7 linked regions of the Homo sapiens genome follow. The protein of the gene in region 1 interacts with the protein of each later gene in a pairwise test. Each region holds a gene or a part of one and is shown on either strand. Other genes may lie near its edges.

What was found.
Region 2: the proteins of COL8A1 (region 1) and FBLN2 interact in binary tests that used the Homo sapiens proteins (3 or more experiments, as listed by UniProt).
Region 3: the proteins of COL8A1 (region 1) and REL interact in binary tests that used the Homo sapiens proteins (3 or more experiments, as listed by UniProt).
Region 4: the proteins of COL8A1 (region 1) and NOTCH2NLC interact in binary tests that used the Homo sapiens proteins (3 or more experiments, as listed by UniProt).
Region 5: the proteins of COL8A1 (region 1) and NOTCH2NLA interact in binary tests that used the Homo sapiens proteins (3 or more experiments, as listed by UniProt).
Region 6: the proteins of COL8A1 (region 1) and CREB5 interact in binary tests that used the Homo sapiens proteins (3 or more experiments, as listed by UniProt).
Region 7: the proteins of COL8A1 (region 1) and SLC35A2 interact in binary tests that used the Homo sapiens proteins (3 or more experiments, as listed by UniProt).

What each region holds. Positions count from the first base shown.
Region 1 is NC_000003.12:99,792,094-99,795,593, reverse strand, and holds part of COL8A1 (collagen alpha-1(VIII) chain precursor), read right to left. Parts: intron 1,365-3,500; coding exon 1-1,364. UniProt on the Homo sapiens protein: Macromolecular component of the subendothelium. Major component of the Descemet's membrane (basement membrane) of corneal endothelial cells. Also a component of the endothelia of blood vessels.
Region 2 is NC_000003.12:13,566,125-13,569,624, reverse strand, and holds part of FBLN2 (fibulin-2 isoform a precursor), read right to left. Parts: intron 886-3,500; exon of another isoform or gene 545-885; intron 1-544. UniProt on the Homo sapiens protein: Its binding to fibronectin and some other ligands is calcium dependent. May act as an adapter that mediates the interaction between FBN1 and ELN.
Region 3 is NC_000002.12:60,923,074-60,926,573, reverse strand, and holds part of REL (proto-oncogene c-Rel), read right to left. Parts: 3' UTR 1-3,500. UniProt on the Homo sapiens protein: Proto-oncogene that may play a role in differentiation and lymphopoiesis.
Region 4 is NC_000001.11:149,467,121-149,470,620, reverse strand, and holds part of NOTCH2NLC (notch homolog 2 N-terminal-like protein C), read right to left. Parts: 3' UTR 1-3,500. UniProt on the Homo sapiens protein: Human-specific protein that promotes neural progenitor proliferation and evolutionary expansion of the brain neocortex by regulating the Notch signaling pathway.
Region 5 is NC_000001.11:146,166,522-146,170,021, forward strand, and holds part of NOTCH2NLA (notch homolog 2 N-terminal-like protein A), read right to left. Parts: intron 1-3,500.
Region 6 is NC_000007.14:28,800,518-28,804,017, reverse strand, and holds part of CREB5 (cyclic AMP-responsive element-binding protein 5), read right to left. Parts: intron 1-3,500. UniProt on the Homo sapiens protein: Binds to the cAMP response element and activates transcription.
Region 7 is NC_000023.11:48,905,665-48,908,646, forward strand, and holds part of SLC35A2 (UDP-galactose translocator), read right to left. Parts: intron 880-2,982; coding exon 728-879; intron 1-727. UniProt on the Homo sapiens protein: Transports uridine diphosphate galactose (UDP-galactose) from the cytosol into the Golgi apparatus, functioning as an antiporter that exchanges UDP-galactose for UMP.

The sequences.
Region 1 (3,500 bases):
AGGGCCTGGGGGTCCTGGAAGGCCAGGCTGGCCTTGAGGACCAAGGGCACCAGGCTTCCCTGGGGGGCCATGAAGTCCTGCCACTCCGGGTTTCCCTATACCAGGGAACCCAGGGGGCCCTGGGAGGCCCGGCTCCCCTTTGGGGCCTGGAATCCCAGGTGGTCCAATGGGGCCACTAGGGCCCCCAATCCCTGGGATACCTGGGGGGCCCTGTAAACCCTGATCCCCTGGGATTCCTGGCTCTCCCTTAGGTCCGAGAAGCCCTGGAACACCAGGGAGTCCTGGTACACCTTTTTGCCCAGCTTCCCCCTTGGGCCCTATGGGACCTGGCAAACCCCTCATGCCAGGAGGCCCTACTTCACCAAGGAAACCTGGCTTTCCTGGGAAGCCTTGAAGCCCTGGCTCACCCTTGGGACCTGGTGGCCCCTGTGGCCCTACAATCCCACCTTCTCCTTTGGGTCCAGGAAAACCAATAGCACCTGGAGGGCCCATAGGACCTGGGATTCCAGGCAGGCCTGGCTCTCCTGGAGGACCCCCTATTCCTGGGGCACCTATTGGTCCTTTCTCCCCTCTTGGTCCAAGAGCCCCAGGAACACCTCCCATGCCCCGGTCACCTTTGGGTCCTGGGAAGCCTGGTTTCCCAATCCCTGGAAGGCCTGGGGGTCCTGGTAGCCCTGGCAGTCCTTGCTCCCCTTTGCCACCTGGAAATCCTGGCTGGCCTGGGATCCCATCCTGGCCTGGCTTTCCAATTCCGGGTATCCCAGGAGGTCCTTGAACCCCCGGTACCCCAATAGGGCCTTGTGGCCCAGGTTCTCCTGGAGCCCCTGGCTTTCCCAGGGGGCCCTGGGGCCCAGGGAAGCCTGTCACTCCTGGTTTGCCCACTCCTGGCAGTCCAACAGGGCCGGGAGGGCCGTGCATCCCTGGAGGCCCCTTTACACCTGGCGCACCTGGCATCCCGAAGCCCTTGTCTCCTTTAGGACCCCGAAGGCCTTGAGGTCCTGGTAGTCCTTTGGGTCCTCGATCACCCTTTGGTCCTGGTTGCCCTGGTAACCCTGGCCCACCTGGCTTCCCAATGCCAGGAAGTCCATGAGGCCCTGGAGGTCCTTGTGGTCCTGGGATCCCCATAGGCCCAATTTCCCCTTTCTGTCCAATTTCTCCTTTTGCCCCAGGCATGCCCATGGCTCCTGGCTTCCCTGGCATTCCAGGCATACCTGGCTTTCCAACTCCTGGATATCCCTGTGGCCCTGGTTTTCCTTTAATTCCAGGTATCCCATGACCTGGCAAACCAGGGGGCCCAGGTGGTCCTCTTGGGCCAGGCTCTCCACGGGGACCTTGTTCCCCTCGTAAACTGGCTAATGGTATTTCTACTGGGAAGAGAAGAGAGAGAAGGGGTATGGGGGGAGAGAGAGAGATTGATTAGTAGATTGTCTCTCACATCAATGAAGTACTGACAACCATTATTTAGTTCTGACACATTTGCCTAATACTTATCAAGAGAAAAGACTAGGAATAATATGCTCATCTTCTAGACCTTAAAAATCAGGCCTGGCATGGTGGCTCGTGCCTGTAATCCTACAACTTTGGGAGGCCCAGGCAGATGCATCACCTGAAGTCAGGAGTTCGAGACCAGCTTGGCCAACACAGTGAAACCGCGTCTCTACTAAAAATACAAAAATTAGCCGGGTGTGGTGGCACATGCCTGTAGTCCCAGCTACTTGGGAGGCTGAGGCAGGAGAATCACTTGAACCCAGGAGGCAGAGGTTGCAGTGAGCTGAGATCACACCACTGCACTCCAGCCTGGGTGAAAGAGCGAAACTCCATCTCCAAAAGGAAAAAAATAAATAAATAAGAAAGAAAAATCAAGCTGACAATTTTTTTTTATGTATTTGAGGTATTTTTTTGATAACTGATATGTGAAGCTGCTTGTATCAACATTGGTTAAGTAAAGAAGCTAAAAAGTAATGAAGAAGAAACATTTTTCCAAGTATAAAACTTGGAGATATTATGGTGTGTTTATTATAGTGAATTTGGAAGATTCAAAGATGTATAAAGAAAAATCAAATTTGCCTATAAGCCCACTACTCAGAGATAACCACTTAACATGTATATATATTTTCATCTCATTTGTTCTATCTGTGTGTGTGTGTGTGTGTGTGTATTTTAAACAATATTGGAGTTGTTATCCAAATTATAGTTGTATTTTATTTATGGGGTACAAAGTGATACTATGATTCATGAATACAATGTGGAATAATTAAATCAAGCTAAATATATCTATCACTTCAAATACTTATTTTTATCTCGTGAGAAATTTGAAATTTACTCTTTCAGTGATTTTGAAGTGTGTAATACATTATTATTAACTATACTCGCTATTCTATGCAATAGATATCCAAAAAACAACTTATTTCTCCTGCCTAACTGAGGCTTTAAACCTTTCATCATCATCTCTCCATTCTCTCCCTCCTGCCCCACCCCAAGGCCTCTGGTAACCACCATTCTCCTCTGGGTTTCTATGAGTTCGATTGTTTTAGATTCCACATTTAAGAGAGAATATGCAGGATTTTTCTTCCTGTGCCTGGCAAAGTTTTTAAATATAATAATTTATGGCCAAGATATTTCCTCTTATGCTTAAATACAGTATGATGTGAAATAGGAAAGAATAGAGTTATTTTTTGTGTGGTTCAATAACATCTTTCCACATCTCTCCTTTAGAATTAGTAGATTTGCTTAATTTCTTGAAGGTGCTGTGGGATTTCCTAAGCCTCAAATATTAGTTCATTAATTTAACAAATAATTTCTCATATACAAATCTGGCTTTTAAGTAGGAGAGATGAATAAGATATTTTAGAATGATAAACAGTATGGATGAAGTCGAGAGCTTGACTTAGGAACAAGAAGCTCTGCTTATCTTTCTGGTCTTGGCGTGAGATTGTGACTGGGTCCCTTAAGCTGTCAGCATCTCTGCTTGCCTATCTGTACAGCAAGAATAAGAATAATACAGCCACACTACAAGATTAGAGAATAGATGTGAAAGGTGTCACCGTTTCTCAAATTGTTATTGAAATACACAGCACGTGCTGTTATAATGAACATGCTGTGCCTTTCAGATGAACACAACTCTGGATCTCCCATGCTGCTGGGACTAATGGATAACATGGAGAAATGAAATATATGGTCCCAATATCTTCTTGGCATAATACTTATGTCACTAGTAGCACCTTAATCCTGACCATTGTACTTTTTGCTGAGCTACTGTCAGAGAATAAAATACAAACAGAGAACTCATTTCGAGATATGAGGATCCATCAGAGTAAGTACAAGAAGTGCCAAAGGCAAGGCAAGCCATTCAATAAAGGAAGGAAAAGAAATGTCTGAGATAATCTTCTAAGTATAATACTAGCTCCTAAAGAGAAGAAAGTCAGGAATACTTTCTTTACATGAATAGATATGATTATAGTACTATTCAGGCATGCTATTTCTAACCAGCGAATTGTGTA
Region 2 (3,500 bases), about 86 Mb from region 1:
TGTCCCCCTCCCCAGTAGCACTGGCAAATGCATCCTGATGCCTTGCTGTCCCTAACACCCCACCAACTCCCCCAGTCATGTCCATTCTCCCCGCAATCTGTCTCCACTCCCTCCCCACGGTCTCTACCCCTTCCTTCCATCTCTAGGCCCTGTCCCCACTCCAGTCTCAGCTCTGATCTCCACTGGAACAGCCCCGCCACCTCCCTGCCCACCACTCCTCCCCTTTCCCAGGGAACCCAGTCTGGCCTGAGAGCAGCTGGCCCCGACATGCCACGGCCCCACAGCCCGCCCCAGTTTCCCATGGCCAGAAAGGAAAGGTCTGGATTCCCAGCTGAGCCTGGCACTCAAGGCCCTGCAGGAGCCATCCCAACCCGACCCTCCCACAGGCCCTTAGGCCTGAACTCCCCCAAGGGCTCTTCTCCCCTCTCATCTTGCACAAGCCACTCAAATGCCACCTTCTCACCAGTCCTCATGCCTCCTCCCTCCTCCACCCTGGCCCAAGTCCCCAGTGCCTGTAGCCCCACTTGTGACCCAGTGGCCGTACCTGACTCTTATAGACAGCGTGCTCCCCAAAGTCACAGGCAAGAGCTCCTTCTCCGACTCCCAGCCTAAAGCGCAGCCCCATAGGGCAGTGACAGAGGGACAGCAGGACTCGTTACCACAGCAGTGGTCCCCAAGCCTGCCCCATTTCTAAAGGAACGCCTCCTCTGCACCCAGCCCCTCTAGGAACCAGGGGTTTATCAGCCAGCAAGACAGGTTCCCAGCGTCCTCACAGCACTGACACCCTCAGGGGTGGAGGGGCAGATAATAAACCCAAGAGCAAATCTGTAGAGAACTGAACGCCAGGCAGGCATGAGCCCCATGATGAAATAAATGAAGGGAATCAAGGAGACGGAAGGAGGACGTGGCAGTGTCAGGGGAGCCCGTGTCAGTCCGGCGGAAGAGGAGGGCTTCTCTGAGGAGGGCGTCAGGCAGGGAGTGGCAGGGCCAAGGGGCTGAGGCCGGACCAGCAGCAGAAAGGTGAAGGACAGAGAGGGCCCCCAGGGCTGAGCCACATCAGCACACGGGTGGTAACTGCAGAGCAACGGGCTTCCAGCCTGCTGTGAGGGCCTCTGGGCGTGCCTGTAAGCGCTGGAGCCTGGGACTCTCCAGTGCAAGGGACCCACCCAGCTGCCCACTGCGCTGAGACACGGGAGCCAGCAGGGAGCAGGTGAGAGAGCCCAGGGCAGTGAGCGAAGAGAGGCAGGAGATGGTGGCACAGGGGATCTATTTTGAAGGTAGGACCCACAGGATTTGCTGATGGATAGGATGCAGCGGACAGAAGACAGAAGTCCAGGAGCGCCTGGAAGGGGGAGTTGTGTGACCGAGGCAGGGAAGGCTGCGGTGGAGGGCCATGGACGGGCAGGGAGATGGAAGCCCATGCCCAGACCAGGCTCAGGGCCGGCGGAGTGCTAGGGAGCCTCTGGGGCCTCGAGGGCTGACGCCCCTGCCCTCACACTGAGGTGCCACCTCAGGAAGCTGGAGGACTCCGTAAAGCCACTGACATTAGGAATGGGCCCCTGGGAGAATCAGGGCCTTTACTCCCAGTCAGCAAAAGCAAGGACCCTCCAGACTGCAAGGGAGAGGCCCTCAGGTCCACTCTCAACAGTTCTTTCTGTTTGTTTTTAGAGACAGGGTCTCACTCTGTTGTCCAGGCTAGAGCACAGTTGTGTGATCATAGCTCATCGCAGCCTCAACCTCCCGAGCTCAAGCGATCTTCCCACCTCAGCCTTCTGAGTAGGTGGAACTACAGGCACACACCACTACACCCAGCTAATTTTTTTTAACAAGGGTCTCACTGTGTTGCCCAGATTGGTCTTGAACTCTTGACCTCAAGCGACCCTCCTGCCTCAGCCTCCTACAGTGCTGGGATTACAGGCATGAGCCACCGTGCCAGCTGACAGTGTCTTTTAAGAAAGGAAATCTTTGGCCAGGCGAGGTGGCTCACGCCTGTAATCCCAGCACTTTGGGAGGCCAAGACAGGCGGATCACTTGAGGTCAGGAGTTCGAGACCAGCCTGGCCAACGTGGTGAAACCCTGTCTCTACCAGAAATACAAAAATTAGCCAGGCATGATGGCGTGTGCCTGTAATCCCAGCAACTCAGGAGGATGAGGCAGGAGAACTGCTTGAACCCCGGAGGCGGAGGTTGGAGTGAGCCGAGATCGTGCCACTGCACTCCATCCTGGGGAACAGAGGGAGACCCCGTCTCAAAACAAAAGGAAATCTTTGGTGAACTGAGACCCAAGCTCCCTGCCCTCCTGCCTTCAGGTGCATCACACACCTAGGCATGAACGTTGTGTCCTGAGAGGACAGTACCCCAGCCACAGGACACAGGGCTGTCCTAGAACTTCTTCCAGAAGAACTTCCTTCCCAGCCCACCCTGCCCCACCACCCGGTCCACCAAGTCCATCCCCTTGCTCTGCTCACCGGCACAGCCCCCAGGGTGACCTGGCCCCTTGGCCCCCCAGGCCCCCAGCATCACATTCTGTCCATGCTTAAGCAATCCCAAACCTCAGGCTTGCCCATCTCCCCACTCCAGGCCCAGGGCAATGATAAAGAACATCAGGCCCAAGCCTGACTCTGCATTTTCCACATTTGCTGCGCAACCCCAGGCACGGCCCTGGCCCTCTCTGAGCCCTGGTTCTGCATCCACCCAGTGAACGTGTTCCACCATACCTCAGGTCATAGTCGGGGGCCCACCAGCATTATCTGGCCCATAAGTGCTTTCGTTTGGCTCACACAGTGGGTTTCTCATTTTAAATTGGTTACCAGCATGCATAAATTGAAAACGTTCACATAAAAATTCAGGTTTCCAACTCCTGTTTCAAGCCACAGAGCTCTGGCCACCCTGAGATGTCACATGGGGTGTGAGCTCCCAGGTTCCCCAAGTCGTCTGGGCCCCCCCAAATGCATGCAGCTCAGAGTATCCTGGTGCTGTCTGATGGTTGTATGTCCACTCAGGAGGGGAAAGGACCATCTGGGATGTGTCGAGAGGGAGTGGCCCACGTGGTGAGGGGGCCCAGGCCCCTTGGGGTGGCTCACCTGGGAGAATAGCAGACCTCACTGTCCTCACATCTCCACAGCTGCTCCCAATGGGGCGTGTATGTGTGGGGCGGGAGGTGGGGGCATGGAGGAGATGGCAGATGTCAGCTCCAAGTGGAGAACACTCCCTCCAGGGCAGGGACTGACCAGGCTGCTGGGAAGGAGTGAGCTCCCTATCTATCGCCAGAGATAAGCAAGCAGGGCTGGGGACACTCGTACAAGAGAGAAGCAGGAGGGCACAGTCTCTACACTGCAGGGTCACAGAATCAAACATGCCCCTCCTGGGAGCTCCAGCTGAGTTTTCCCACAACCCCGGCTTCTGCAGACAGCTCCCACCCCTCAGCAACCTGAAAAAAGAAGCCCCTGGAGATGGGGTGGGGAAGGAGGCCTGACCTCCCTGCGGGGGGACAGTCCCAGC
Region 3 (3,500 bases), on another chromosome or scaffold:
CCAACTGAGGGGAGGGGTCAAGACTCATGGGAAATAAATCTCAGGGAGGAATCTTGACTACCACAGAAAACCCAGAGGAGTATGCAAAGAGGGAAGTATAGGAGGTTATACATAGGTCAAGCAGTGTGAGGACTGAAAAAAAGACACTAGATTTGACAAGGCGGGCAGTCTCCGCTCATCTTTCCCAGAATATCCTAAGAAAATTGTAGGAGCTAAAGACAGAGATGGCTGGGCTAAGGAATAACTGGGAAGGGAGAAAATGGAGGCTGGAGGCATTTCAGAAGTCAGGATGCAAATGCATCCAAGTGGTAGGAAAGGTTTTATTTGGTCTTTCCTTTTAGGCTAATGAAGACATTTACCATGTTTATACAAAGAAAGGAATCACTAAGTGGTGATGTAAGGATAAAGTAAACACAGCCTGGCAGAGAAAGGAGGAGGGATCCAGTGCACAAGTAGAGTTCAGAAAAAGTGCCTCAGATACTAAAAGCAGGTGTTAAAAGAGCAGGTGAAAGCATGAATATATGTAGAGACAGAGGAGAAACGTTACCAAATTCATTTTAAATTAAAGTCTATACAGGGTCAAAAAATAGCACCTGAAAAATGAAAAATCCATTGGGAATATTCTACACACAGAGGTAGCAGAACCTTAATTCTGCTTACACCGCAAAACTAGCCAACACTTATTTAGTTTTAAAAAAATATTCTAAACACAGATGTAGCAGAACCTTAATTCGGCTTATACTTACTTATACTAAGTAGCCAACGCTTAATTAGTTTAAAGAAAAAAACCCATGCAGCTATTCTAACAGTCAGTGTTTAAACTGATTGGTGCTAATTAATCCAAAACTATGAGATTCTGTATTAAAAAAAAAAAAAATCTCCCCACCTATCATCCATCATCATCTAGAGACATCCTGGGTTCACATTTTGAACAGAAAAGAAATTGTGCCTTCAGGTTTTTCTTTCTCCCTGGTAAGTTCTATTTATGTGCTTATGATTTTAAAAATTTATTTTAATTTATATTTTTAAGTAAAAAAATTACTTTCTACCTTTTTTATTGAATTCTATGATTCTTGTGAGATTTCATAATGGCTGCTCATGAAAAATTTATAATACAGAAATATTTCCTTTTGAAATAATAATTTCTGAGGAATATTAATGGTACTCAGGGGTCTTTCTTTTTTTTTCTTCCTGAACCATCCTGAGCCCAAGTCTCACTTTGCTGTCTTCCCTATTTCCCAGTATCATTTAACTGAGAATTTTTGTTTTTATGGCATTCACACATTTTTCTATTTGACCGAAACGACTAGTTTATGTAAAGTTATGGTTTGGTTAGACATCGTGTAAGTAAAATGACAGACTGTTTCTTGCTAGGAAGATATTCAACATTTAGGGCAGGTTCTAGTTGTAAAACAAACTAGGTAAAGTTAATTACTTAGCATAATGATAATTCCATCATAATTAAGATTACTGCCCAACTTTAATCTGTAATAATAAAATATAATGATCTAATTAACCCTTACAATGTCTTTGGGAAATAAAAGGGCAAAATAAATAATTATATATCAAATGAAAACTCCAAAATATAACTACGTTTTGAAGCAAAGTGAAAGGTTTCTAAATGCCAGAATTACCAAAAGTCACGAAACACAAACAGCAAATAAAGTGTAATGTTACAGCTATAACAACTCACATAAAGTATGCAGAAACAACTAGGAAACACTGAGAATTTTAAATCTGATTAAGGAGCTAGTAGAGATTACCCAGCATTCAGCTCACCATTTGAAACCAGCCAAATGAATATGTGACAAGTCTCTTTTAAAAATCTTGCACTTTGAAAAGGAAATGTGTTATAAGTGTTACTCAATCTGGAAGTTGCAATGAGCTTGACAATGTCAAAACATGGATTTAGAGATTCTCAATGAACCTCTAATGTTTTACCTTCAATAAAATCTCTTTTCATAAAAGGAAAAAAAAGATTACCCAAATTCTACCATCATTTTGCCACTGGGATTATTTTCCTTTCAAACAATTTGGATGACCATTATTATTCCTGGACTTGAATGTACACGATTCTCATAAACCCAATGTCACACTAAGTAAAACTGCAAAAATCATATACGTCTTATAATTAAAGTTATTATTTCTTTCAAAAACCAAAGTTCTATTAGTAATACTTTTAATGTTCAATAAACATTTACTGAGTGTTTAATATAAGGTAGGCATTTTTCTACAAATTGGAGATTCAACAATAAAGCACAAAAATTTCTGTCCTTAGAAAGTTTATATTTCGGTATGGGAAAACAAACAGTAAATGAATAAATACTTAGTAAAGTCAGATCGTGGTGAGTGCTATGGACATACATAAAGCAGGGGGGAAAGGGAATGCTGATGTATATATTCAAGGACGACCTGCTCAGGTAACAGTGGAGTGACACCTGAAGGATGTAAGAGTGAACTATGCATTTTTCTGGGAGAACAACATTCAAGGCAGAGGGAATACCAAGTACAGACTGTCCAAGGCAAGTGCATACTTGATGCTTTGAGGAGCACTGAGGCCAAGGTGCCTGGAGCTGCATGAGGAGGTGGGATATGGTGGTACCTGAGGTAGGACAGGGAGTCTAGGCCTGCAACTTTTAAGGACTTTGACTGCTCTGAGTGAGATGAGAAGCCAATGAATGGTTTTGAGCAGATGAATGGTATGAGTTGACTTGTTTTAAAAATAATCATTCTGGCTACTTTATGGGGAACAGACTGTAGGAATGCAAGGATATAAGAAGAATTTTTGTAGATGACAGCTTCAATCCAGGGAAGAGATGATGGTGGCTTGGAATAGGGCGTTAATAGTAGAGGTCAAAAGAGGTGGTCAGCTTTAGATATATTGTGAAGGTAGGGTCTACCAGATTTGCTAATGGATTGGATATGGGTGCTAAAAGAAGAATCAAGGATGACTTCAGGGTTTTTGGCCTGAGCAACCAGAAGTATGGCATTGCCATTTACTGAGTTGGAGAAGACTGAAGGAGAAGCAAGTTTGGGAGGGAAGACCAAGAATTCAGTTTTGGATATGCTGAGTGTGAGCTTTAATTAGATTTCTAGATAGAGATGTCAAATAGGCAGTTTTATGAGATCACAGGGAGTGAGGACATCTAAGAAAGGCGAATGGTCCAAGGAAACTTCTTCCCCTTAAAAAATGAGTGTACAGCTAAAATCATAAGCAACTTTAAAGGCATAGATTGAAATAGTATAAAATGTAGAAAACCTCCCATACCTTGAAAGCTCACTTCAACTGCCTTCTGCCCAACTTAACATTTTAAAGACATTTTGATATACATACAAATCTAAGCTCCAAGAAGCCTAAGAAAACCCCTTAGGGGTTACCTTGGCCCATGGGCCTCAAAAATAAAAAATTAAGTTTTTCAATGGCATAGCCATTACAAGTTTTATCTTAAATTTGCTTGAAATTTAAGAATACATTAAAACATTATAAAAAGAAATATAAA
Region 4 (3,500 bases), on another chromosome or scaffold:
TGAAAACCTCATGCTAAGTGAAAGAAGCTGTCATAAATTACTACATGCTGCATGTTTCCATTTGTATGAAATGTCCAGAAGAGGCAAATAAAGACAGAAAGTAGACTAGTAGTTGCCTAGGGCTGGGAGGGAGTTAGGAGGAATGGAGAGTAATTGATAATGGGTAAAGGGTTTCTTCTGATGTATAAAAATATTCTAGAATTGACTGTGGTGATGGTTACTCCTATCTATTAAAATTACTGAATTGTGTACTTTTTTAAGAAGTAAATTGTATGGTATATAAATTATATCTCAAAGCTATTGTATTAAGGGAAAAAGCACTAAACACAGTGCCTTACACATATTAGCTAATATTATTATTTGTCAGTGGTATTATAGCATTTGTTAGAGATTGTCTGCTCTAATCCTTTTATGTTACAGATGAGGAAGTTGAGAGCCACATGGCTGACTTGACCAAGATTAAACGGCTAGTAAGTAGGAATAAGTACTGAAACAGAAACTTTACCCAATTGCAGTCCATATGTTTTCTGGGATCCCGGAGTTCCCTTTCAACAATGTAAAATACAAACTTAGGTCAAAAGTTCCCATGTCTGAGAAAACTCAAGCCAAATCAGTTCTCCTCCAAAGTTGACAGGATTTATGCTTTAAAAATAGAGATACAGAATTCTCTTTGGAAAGATCTACCAAATTCCTGTAAGAAACAGTCTACCCAAAGTAGGGGAAAGGCTATATGAAAAGTTACAAGGCACTTCTTAAAAATATATCTTAGGTTTTTAGGGAAAGGTAAACAGACAAGTTTCCAGACCCGTGGGTGGAATGGATGTAGCAGATTCACTGAGAGGCTCACAGCGCCGTACTAAAGGGAGTCTACTGCTTAAAGCCAATTCACATCCTTAAAAGGTCAAATGGAGAGAAATTAAACTTGGGAGAAGCATTTTAAGACTGTGCTGTTACAAAACCTCGGGCCACTTAACTGATTAATCATGGCAATGAGGGCAGGGACCAGAAAAGAGTCTTTAGAACCTGTCATCCCCACACAGAAGAGCAACTTTCAGGGAAACACCCTTATCTTTCCATTTTCAGACCCCGGGAGGTGTGAGGGTGGAAAGGCTAGGTAGAGAAGAGAGCAGAAAGGAGATGAGATGACACAACCAGGATTCTCCGAAGCTGGGCTTGAAGTCCTCAAGAAAAACTCCCATGAACAAGGAAGGAAGAGTGAAGAAAAAAACAGGGATACCTGGAACTGGACAAAAGTAAAAAGATAGAAGGATACTTTTTTTCCCCCAGAAGAAGTCTGTCACAAAAGCAAACCTGCAAATATACGATCAGTATAACACCCAAGAAAATGACACATGCGGCCAGGCATGGTGGCTCATGCCTGGAATCCCAGCACTTTGAGAAGCCGAGGCAGGTGGATCACCTGAGATCAGGAGTTCGAGGCCAACCTGACCAACATGGTGAAACCCCATCTTTACTAAAAATACAAAAATTAGCTGAGCATGGTGGCAGGCACCTGTAGTCCCAGCTACTTGGAAGGCTGAGACATGAGAATAGCTTGAACCCGGGAGGTGGAGGTTGCAGTGAGCCGAGATAGCACCATTGCACTCCAGCCTGGGAGAAAGAGCGATGCTCCGTCTCAAAAAAAAAAAAAAAAAAAAAAAAGAAAAGAAAAGAAAATGACACATGCCCCCAAGTGTGAGAATGCAAGAGGGAATCCCTGACCTATCCCTATCCAACCAGTTTTCTTGGCACACACCTTCCATTCTCTGAATGAGCCCAGATTAACTCACTGACCCCTGTGCCACGTATCTCCCACTCCATCACCCGCCCAGGCTCACTGCTTCCACTTGCGTCCCTTCATATCTCCCTACTGACCTCCACTTTTTTCTAACTTTGTCACCAAAGAAGTCACAGAAATAAATAGGAGGATTCAAAAAGAATAATTTCAGTACATTTAAAAAATTGTAGAATATAGGATTCTCATCTATGTTTATCACGTTCATTCATTTTTCAAATTTTCATTGTGGCACCATTTTATGACAGGCACTATGCTGGGGATGCTGGCGACTAGGGTAGGGAGTTAAAATGAGAGTGTCTACTTGGAAAGATGAACAGATAAATAATCACCGTGGTAAGTGCTGTGCTAGAGATATGCAGATGTCAAAAGACCTTAGAAGGTCTACAATCCACTTGGAGGGTAGGGAATATAGAAGGCATTTCAGTGAAATAGGGTGCCTTTGACAAATCATTAAGAATGAGTTCTACATTAAAAAGGGGAAGAGAGGGTGATAGCTGAGGAGGCAGCATAGGCAAGAACATCCAGCATGAAAGAACAGTGAAGGACATCAGGAACATCTTTCAGGAACATCAGGTAAAACAGACTTAGGGCCCAAGTCAAAGGAGCTAAAATAATACACCCTGGAAAGTGGTATGATCATTTCTGCATCTGCTCCAGAGAAACCTGCCAAAATATGATTAGCATAATACCCAAGAGAACATCACATTCCCCATGTGTGAAAATGCAAGAGGGAGTTATTTCTAATAGTTCATAAGCTCAGCAACAACAGAGTAGACACAAAAGCCACAGAATGTGCTTAGGCTTTACTTTAATGATATAGGGATATCACATATCATCAGCCTGTGGAGTACAGAGGTAGTTTACAAAGGATAAACCTTCATTGTTTGGAAAGGAAAGATCAGAGAGCTCTTTATGAAGTTTAAACAAAATCAGAGAAATAAAGAGATGTGGGAAAGAAAGAAAAAAAAGAAAGTACATTGAGGACAGTCCAATCTAACTGTGAACTCATAAGGGACAGCCAGTAAATTCAAAACAGCCTACTGTTTTTTGATTACTTGTGCTACTCTATTAAAATAGCCACAAACACAAAACTAGTCTACCTCTTTCTCTCCCCATTATTGGCCCTAACCCAAAAATAGTGGGAGTAAATGATTTAATAATTTATTTTCATGCTCCATTTTGTTCTTAAGTTAAAATTACTGTGGTTGGTGCCCCTCCTTTAGCTTCTGCTAAAGACTTTACATAATGAAAGCTCATGAAGTGTCTGGATTACTAACAGTTACTTATCCAAAAAGATGAGACATGGTTCATTGATTTGATTCTATTAGTTCTCTCTTGAAGATATTTTTCTCCTCCCTCTGTGAAGAAACATTTCTTTCTGTGTCATACAAGACGCGTCATTTTTGTAGTTTTAATTCCCTCTTGAGTCCTACAGTAATACTAAAATACTCACAGTGACTACAGTATCCTTTGCAGGGAAAAAATTGTAAATTAACCATTTAAATATAGTCACTAAGTTATGTGGCATTCACTGACTCAGAGTTGAAAAAGACTCCAAAATTCTTATCCAGTATTAGAGTATACAAGGACAAAAGGAGAGGCCAAACTAAGTCTAGGACGCACAATACAAAGAAGAAAATGAGAAGACCAAAGTTACAGTCTCAATACTATGACATGATACTAAACCATACAGTCAGTCAGC
Region 5 (3,500 bases), on another chromosome or scaffold:
GCTAAGGCTCTGGGCATCTTCATGAGTAGGTGTAGCTACAGACCAACAGGCAGTGAAGAAAGTTCATAGCACTGAAACCAAAGATGGCATGCAGGTGACTGTGAGGAGTCTGTATCAAGAAGGTCAGAAGGTCTGGTTTGGAGTTCTGGTGCTGTGACCTTGGACAAGTTACTTATCTTCATTGACTATCCATTTTCTCACATTGTAAATAGTTAATAAGGTCACCTACATCATGAGATTATTCTAAGAACTGAACAAAATCAAGTATGTAAAAAACCTTATAAATGTTAAAAAGTTTTGCAAGTGGGCTGGGCACAGTGGCTCACACCTGTAATTCCAGCACTTTGGGAGGCTGAGGTGTGAGGACCATCTGAGGTCAGGAGTTTGAGAATAGCCCGGCCAACAAGGTGAAACCCTGGCTCTACTAAAAATACAAAAATTAGCCAGGGTGGTGGTGCACGCTTGTAATCCCAGCTACTCGGGAGGCTGAGGCATGAGAATTGCTTGAACCCGGGAGGCGGAGGTTGCAGTGAGCCGACGAGATTGTGCCACTACACTCCAGCCTGGGCAACAGAGTGAGATTCCATCTCAAAAAAAAAAGTTTTGCCAAGTGAAAACATCTTTTCTCTCTTCTTTGTGCTTATTGAGGAAAATACAATGCCCCATCCAAATCACAGCTTGATTTGAGAATAGTTTCTTGTGTTGGTTTTTTGAAGTGGAGGAGCAAAAAGTGCCAATGTAGCATAGCTAAAATTAACTCTGAGATATATTATTAAAAGCATTTGCAGCTTATTCAAGAAATGTGTTATGAATGTTAAAAACTGCAACACAATTCTCACTCACAGTGCAGCCCTCTGGGCATTATTAGATGACTCTTCATTCTCCCATATGGGAATTATGCACCTTCTAAATAATGGCAAATTTTTAAACGTGGGTGGGCTTTGCTCAGCTTTGCTCCTGAACTATTACACCACCCTAACACTATCATGTGGCATATGCTAAGAGAATGCAAAGTCATTTAAATGGTAGCATCATAAACATATAATGGAAATATAAGGTTCCCAGGAAAACAAAAATGAAGCAAAATGGAAGTTTCTAAAGCTAAACAGATGTATTTCTGAATTATTTGTTTCTACAGTTTAATTCACATTGTTGCTCCCTATCAAGTATGGAAAAATAAGTTTTAACCTAAGATATATTTAAGAAATCAGTAAAACCAGAGATTGACAAAGTACAGTTTGCAAGTCTAATTTGGACCACTGCCTGTTTTTGTTTGGCCTGTGAATAGTTTTTTACATTTTTAAATGATTAGAAAAAAAGAACAAAAGAAGGATATTTTCTGACATTTCAAAATTATATACAATTCAAATTTCAGTGTCCATAAATAGTCTTACTGGAACACAGCCATGCTCATTCATTTATAGATTGTCTATGGCTGATTTTCCACTACAACAACAGAGTCAAGTAGCTGTAATGAGACCACAAAGCCTGCAAAAATAATTACTCTCTGGCACTTTACAGAAAAAGTTTGCCAACTTCTGAGTAGAGAACATATGAAGGCTAATTCTATAAATACCATCCAATATGCTTATTAATAATGATCGGTTTCTGATAGGAAATCAACCTTATTAGTTTCCACAAAGAATATTAAACTTATAATCGTTCATTCACACAACAATTAGTAAATGCCTATTATGTGCCAGGCATTTTTCCAGTGCTAGAAAAATTCTTACACTCTTGGAGTTTACATTCTAATAGCGGAAGACGAAAACAAAATTACTAAGTAAAAGATGCACAATAGATGGAGTTAAGTGCTGTGAAAAAAAATTAAACAGGAAGGAATGGAGCTGGGGATGAGGGTGTGGGGTGAGCAAAGAGAAGTATCTCAGTTTAGAATAGGAAAATCAGAGAAGACCTTCACTGACAATACTTGAGTTGAGACCTAAATAAGGTGAGAGTAATCATGCAGGTATCTTAGGAAAACACATTCATGAGAAAGGGAACAGCAAATGCAAAGGCCATAACACAGAGAGCAGCCCTAGCGTGTTTGAGAAACAGCAAGAATATCTGGAGCAGCAGAAAATAGATGAGAGCTGTAACTGGGATGTGGATCAATTGGGGCCTTTAAGCCACTGTAAAGAAAGACTTAGGGTTTTCCTCTAAATGGGATAATACTTACATATGAGGTACAACAGACTTACTCTCCTAAAGCCCGTGTACAGAACCATATATTTGCTTTACGTGAAACTAGACCTACTGTATTAATAAAGTTTGATTTCTATTTAAAATGTTTTAGAGGGCTGGACATCAGCTTAGTTCTTTACTTTTACCTTAGAAGATATACAAGTCTCTTTTAACCCACACTTTCATGAGGTCCCATTTCCCTTTCCAAATTATTGTTTCACAGCTAACCTTCTATGACTGTAGCCTAATTTCAGATATTCCTCTTTCTTTTCCATCTACTTCTTACTTATCCCTCTGCAACAAAACTTTAATTCTAATTATTGTTTAGAAACTGTTTTCTAAAAACAATGACTTTCCTCTAGTCAAGTTCAGTGGTCTCATCTGAAACTTCATAAGGAAATTCTCTCTCCTATAGGGAGAATTGCTAACCACTCCATGTACCGTTTTAATCATTTTACCTTGGCTTCTATGCCTCCCTCTGTCTAACTCAAAACCCAGTGAAGTCTTAGTCTGGATTGCTGATTTCTCCTTCTTCCCCATCTATTATGGCCACCCTAATGTTTAAGTCTGGACTGCACTGCTCTTTCTCTCAAATGCATTTGTTACTGTTGTTGTTCACTTGGTTTTAAACAACTTCCTTCCTGTAACTGACTCCAAAATACACTGTTCCAGTCCCATATGTTCAGTTTTCTAGAAGTCATCTCTCTATCCTAATATGTGCTGCCACTATTTGAAACTAAACATTTGTAAAAGGAGATCATCTTCCCAAGAAACTTTAATTATTCAATTTTTCTAAGGCTTCCACACACAATTTAAAGTAACTTCATCTCTTTAAGTTGTATATAATTTATTACCACATTCTGACAAGACTTGTTAACTGAATTCCTATAATACTTATCATTCGTGTTCACAGTTTCCTTTTTGATACAAATTCTGATCATCTTAAAAGCCTCAGGCCAGACATCATCTTGTTGCTGGCTTTTCCCCCATTTCCAGCCATCCTTGGAATAACAGAACCTTCAGATTCAAGAAATTTAATTTCTATCCAATTAAGTAATCATTTCTAAAATATTTCTAAAAGATGATCACCAGCCTCTGCTTGAATACAAGCATGTAGCATGGTGCCGGATAAATCTTGAGAATTTAATAAATGCTTGGAGTTATTATTGTTCTGCTCTTAAGAGTACAGACTCTGGAACCAGACCACCTGGATTTCAATCCCAACTCCACCATTTACTCAATGTGTAGTCTTGGGCAAGGTACTAAACTTCCCTGTCGTAAAAGAGATGTAATAACAGTGCCTACTTCATAGGATT
Region 6 (3,500 bases), on another chromosome or scaffold:
CTTATATATCGTGGTCAGTAGGAGGGTCAATGTCAGCCAAATAGGTTAATTCAACTGTCAAAGCCAATGGGCAGGATATCCTATCAAGAATCATACATTCTACTAAAAGGTATTTCCTATTATCCAATCATGCATTATATCGTATCTACAACTGAATGCAAGCATACACCAAAGAGCACCATTCAATATGGTGATAGCACTGAACAAAGAGACTCCATCTGGTGTGCTACTGTATTTAATTTTTTTTTTTTTTTTTTTTTTTGAGATGGAGTCTTGCTCTGTCACTCAGGCTGGAGTGCAGTGGTGCGATCTCGGCTCACTGCAACCTCCGCCTCCCAGCTTCAAGCAATTCTCTGCCTCAGCCTTCTGAGTAGCTGGGATTACAGGCATCTGCCACCATGCCCAGCTAATTTTTGTATTTTTAGTAGAGATGGGGTTTCATCATCTTGGCCAGGCTGGTCTTGAACTCCTGACCTCGTGATCCATCTGCCTCGGCCTCCTAAAGTGCTGGGATTACAGGCGTGAGCCACCGTGCCCGGCCAGCCACTGTATCTTGTAAGAGTCACAAGAACAAATGCTCTTGCCTCTCAAAATATTTCTCAGACACAGAGAATAAATAATTTCAAATTTTAAAAAGTAGAGAGCTAATCTGATTTTAGGGCTTAAAATTAGAGTTAGTAATTTACAAGCTTCGGAGGTAATGTGTAGGTCTTTTCTGTTACCATGATTTTTCTTATGGTCCCTTCCAATACTCTTAATTTTTCTCACTCAATAGCTTTCTTTTGACTTTGAGAAGGGAGTGAGGAAAATAGAAGAATATGAAGTATTGCACCTCCTTTGATGGCCACATCAACTGGCCAGATGTATTTCTAACACAAAAGCATTATCCATTCATAAGCAGACATGCACACAAATAACTTGTACCTGAGTCTAAAGGAGGGGTCAGCAAACTTTTTCTATAAAGAGTCAGATAGTCAGTATTTTCTTCTCTTATCTTCTGTGTCACAACTACTCAACTCTGATACTGTGGTGCAAAAGCAGCTGCAGACAATGTATAAATGAATGAATCTGCTATGTTCTGATACAACTTCAGGGACAGGAAATCTGAATTTCATATAATTTTTACATGTCAGAAATGTTATTCTACTTTTGATTTTTTTCCCCAGTCACTTAAAACTTGAAAACCATTCTTAGCTCATACACTGGACAAAATTAGGCAGCGGGCCAGATTTGGCCCTTGGGCCATCATTTGCTAACCCCGTTCTAAAGATTCAGTTGATAATCAGCTTAGTCCCAGTTTCTTCAAAATTGTTTCTTCTGTGACACAGTCAATTATCATCATATCCCGAGGGGCATAATGTGCTAAGGACTGTATAATGCAGTTACTCGTTGGAAATATATCTTATGCAGAGATGATTGTCTAATTGGCAAGCTCCCATTGCCTTCATGAAGTATTTACCAGGGGACTGCAAGTTCTTTCCAGATTTGTGTTCTTATCTGATTCATGATAGTGGTGTATAATTGCTGGGCAAGGAAACAGTTGTATTTAAATGACGATCAAAGCTACTATGCTCTAACACTGTACAATATTAATGATTCTCAACCAGTTACATACACTATTGAAAAATACCAATTCAATTAATCAAAATCCTTAATTAAACATAAAGAGCCTCTACCTGCTAAGAAAAAAAATAAATAAAAAACAAGAGGAAAGGATGGTAGACTGTATGTTAATATGCGGTCATCATTTAAAATATTTTTGTCATCCCGATTCGGTAGCCACATAGTCTACTTCTCACCTCTTTCATGAGCAACAGATACTGCACAACAGCTACTGACCTTCATAATCCTGAAGAAGTTCAGCATCCTAAATGTCTGGGAAAGATTAGATGCTGGGTACTGTGTTTCCTCCTTTTTTTTTTTTTTTTTTTTTTTTTTTCAGATGGAGTCTCGCTGTGTCGCCAGGCTGGAGTGCAGTGGCAAGATCTCACTGCAACCTCTGCCTCCCGGGTTCAAGCGATTCTCCTGCCTCAGCCTCCTGAGTAGCTGGGACTACAGGCGTGTGCCACCATGCCCAGCTAATTTTTGTATTTTTAGTAGAGACAGGGTTTCACCATGTTGGCTGTGATGGTCTCCATCTTTTGACCTCGTGATCCACCTGCCTCGGCCTCCCAAAGAGCTGGGATTACAGGCGTGAGCCACCACACCCGGCCATGTTTACTTCTAAACAGAAAAGTGAACTAACACTTCTCATCTCCAATTTTAAGCAATGATTTCATTGTTTTTATAAAAATGCTTATTATAAAAATTTAAGCAATGCTTTGCAATGAAGTCAGCAACAATGAAGCCAAATGCGTTGTTTATATCTGGTGGGTGAACAGCATTCCAGACAACTCTATATATGTATATGGAGAGATGAAAGAATAACTAGAATAATTTTGTAACTGTGGAATTAAAATAGCATGTAATTTTAAAAACTTTTATTTGACTATGGCACAGCAAAGAAATGAAAATCTGGGGAATTGCTGGGTTTTAGATACATGTTTCTTTACCCCCAGGAGAAGTTTTTGGATGATACTTCCGAATTTAAGGATGAAAAAATATGAAAAGAGGTTATGTTGAAATCATCATGCCTTTTTAAAAAAATGACATGATGGAAAGTATGGACTTTCTAAACTATTCCTTGTAATTTCATTACTATAAAAGTATACTTTTTATAATAAAAAATCAATTACTACAAAAATATTAGATAATAAAGTAAAAGCCACTTGCCTAGCCTTCTCCCCTAAACCCCAGTCCTGTTCCTCAGATGTAACCACCACATATCCTCAGACATTTGCTTTGCACAAAATCAAGCTGTTTTAATACATAGTTTTGTATCTTGCTTTTTGTCCCTTTAGCAATATATCTTTGACAGCCTTCTATATCTGCAAAAATAGGTAATAATAATGGCTAACATTAACTAAGTACATGCTATGTGCCAGTCCTTGTTCTATATGTTTTACAAGTATCAAGCTACCTAATCCTCAGAACAACCGTGTAAGGCTAAAGGAGAGGCAAAGCCACTCTAACTCCAAAGCCTGTTCTCTAAACCAAGAGAGAAGGTGCCACAAGCCATGCCATTCACACTTTGCCAAAGAGAGAAATGAACTGTGTTTTGCCACCTCCCCATCATCAAAAGGAAAAGCAGAAAGCGCGAGAAGGGGCTAGAAGAGCTGACAAGAGGAGACGTTATTGCCGAATGGTCCAGCAATGGCCACGTGCAAGTGTTACTCAGCACACAGCTAGGGACCTGGATGCACTCTTTCTGAAATTTAGTGGAAGGGAGAGTGGATGGTAAAGAATTTCCAGGAACCTCATCTGCAGCAAAGAAAGGATTGTCCAGGGCTCAGCATCTTCATCTCCCTTGTTGTATTTGTGAAGAACTGACACTTACATTTCCCCTACTCCAAAACACAGACATGATAAGGGCCATGTATCCCTTCTCCCTGCCTCTACTT
Region 7 (2,982 bases), on another chromosome or scaffold:
AGTCTCTCCCAGCAAGTGCACAAAAGGATGGCTGTGCCAAGAAGTCCACATCCCAATCCCATTTCCTGGCTGTGTGACTGGGGACAAAGCACTTGCCCTGTCTGAGCCCTGGCATCATCATCTATAAAAGATGGCTGAGGTATGGAAGTATCTTTGTGATGAGGGACTTGATACAAATGAATCAATAGCCACAACAATGTCAGCAAATACTTACATAGTGCTTACAATATATCAGTGTGGTTCTAGGCACTGCACGTGAATTCATTCATTTAATTCTCACAACACCATTCTGAAGTGAGCACCACTGTAAGCCCCAATTTAAAGGTGAGAAAACTAAGGCACAGAGAGGTTAGGTGACGTGCCCCAAAATCACACAGCTGGAAGGTAGCAGAGCTGAGATTTGAACCCAGACAGCCTGGCCCCAGAATCCAGGCTCTTTAACCATTTCACAAAGCTGCCCACAAATAGCCTAAAGCTTATCTGTCACCAATCAAGGGCTCTTCACAGGTATTATTTCTTTTAAGTATCCTAGCATCTCAGTGAACAGGCATTACTATTTCCACCCCCAATTTTCACAGACGAGAAAAGGGAGGTTGAAGGAGTTCCAAGGACATTCTGAAGGTGACATAGCCCCTGTCCTCTGCAACACCCCCCCACCACGCTATTCCCATACTCCAGTCCCCAACCCAGTTAGTTCCTCTGGGGCCATGCTGGGCTTGGGGCTCACCTGGAAAGTGGCAGCTGGTAGGTTAGAGATGGCAACATACTGGAGGTTATTCTGCAAGGTGTAGATGAGAGAGGGCACTGCGAGCTTGAGCGTGTCCACATACTGCACCAGGACAGCCTCATGGAGGAAGAGAACCAGGTGCTTCACGTTACCTAGGTGGGAGGAGGAGAGCCCTTCTTAGCACTGACAGCCATACATGGGGAACCCCTGAAGGCTGGGAACAGGCCTTGCTCCTGTGACTCCCCCATCCACCCTGCTGTCCAATCCCTGGAGGCTGGAATGAAGTATGTGATCTTGGTTTTCCCTAGAGTACAACCATGTTTCCAGCAAGCTTTTCTGAGACTCAGTTTAATGGCAGCAAAAGAATCAGCCATCCGTGTCTGCTAATCACAGAGCATGTCACTCATGTTAGAGCCTACCTCCCTGGCAGAGAGCCCCATTCAGGGAAAGCACTCAATACTCAATATATTTGTGTACAATGAAATAACCAGCATTAGGCCAGGTGCCGTGGCTCACGCCTGTAATCCCAGCACTTTGGGAGGCCAAGGCAGGTGGCTCATGAGGTTAGGAGTTCAAGACCAGCTGGGCCAACAACACTGAAACCCTATCTCTACTAAAAATACAAAAATTAGCCAGGTGTGGTGGCAAGCGACTGTAATCCCAGCTACTTGGGAGGCTGAGGCAGGAGAATTGCTTGAACCTGGGAGGTGGAGGTTGCAGTGAGCTGAGACCATGCCATTGCACTCCAGCCTGGGCAACAGAGTGAGACTCCATCTCAAAAAAAAAAAAAAAGAAAGAAAGAAATAACCATCATTAACTTGGAGCTTATGAAATAGAAGCCCTAGGAGCTGGGGTGGAGGGCTGTCTCCCACACAGAAGAGTTTAGTCTAGACTTTTTTTTTTTTTGGCACAGTGGCGCGATCTCGGCTCACTGCAAGCTCCACCTCCCAGGTTCAAGCCATTCTCCTGCCTCAGCCTCCCAAGTAGCTTGGACTACAGGCGCGTGCCACCACTCCCAGCTAATTTTTTGTATCTTTAGTAGAGATGGGGCTTCACCGTGTTAGCCACGATGGTCTTGATCTCCTGACCTCGTGATCCGCCTACCTCGGCCTCCCAAAGTTCTGGGATTACAGGTGTAAGCCACCACACCAGGCATAGTCTAGACTTTTAGACTTATCCTAGCTCCTCACTGACCCATGTGCCGTCTGAGGGCAGGGGCCATCTCCCCCTTGTTGCATCTTTCTGTCAGCCCTAGACACAGAGTTGCCTCTGCCACATGGATGAATGCAGGCTTGACCATTAAGCAGAAGTCCGCTTGGGACCTGCTCCAGTGAAAACATGATAATCGGGCTGGGCGCAGTGGCTCACGCCTGTAATCCCAACACTTTGGGAGGTTAAGGTGGGTGGATCACCTGAGGTCAGGAGTTCGAGACCAGGCTGGCCAACGTGGTGAAACCCCGTCTCTACTAAAAATACAAAAATTAGCCGGGTGTGGTGGCAGGCGCCTATAATCCCAGCTACTCAGGAGGCTGAGGCAGGAGAATCTTTTGAACCCGGGAGGCGGAGGTTGCAGTGAGCCAAGATCGTGCCATTGCACTCCAGCTCAGACAACAAGGGCAAAACTCCATTTCAAAACAAACAAACAAAAAACATGAGAATCATTTCCTATGTAACAAGGCCTTTGCAAAGCTCGCCCCACTTTTTGGCAGTTCATCTTTTTTTTTGGCGGGGCGGGGTGGGTGGGTGAGGAGTCTTGCTCTGTCGCCCAGGCTGGAGTGCAGTGGTGTGATCTTGGCTCACTGCAACCTCTGCCTCCCGGGTTCAAGCAATTCTCCTGCCTCAGCCTCCCTAGTAGCTGGGATTACAGGCACCTGCCACCGCGCCTGGATAATTTTTGTATTTTTAGTAGAGACGGGGTTTCACCATCTTGGCCAGGCTGGTCTCTAACTCCTGACCTTGTGATCCACCTGCCTCTCGGCCTCCCAAAGTGCTGGGATTACAGACGTGAGCAACCACGCCCAGCCAGCAGTTCATCTTTTAAGTCACAGCTGGGTGTCACTCCACAGGCAAAACTTCTTCAAACACTGAACAAGGTTGTCCCAGGAACTCCTACTGATGTTCATTCACCAAACCCTGTGCACTCCTGGTCTCCAAACTCGAATTCAGGGGAAAAAAATTCCGGGCAGGGGAGAGAGGGGTGCTGAAATTGTGGCTAAGAGATGAAGGCCTGTGATTAAGTCTGTGGCTATCTGTTA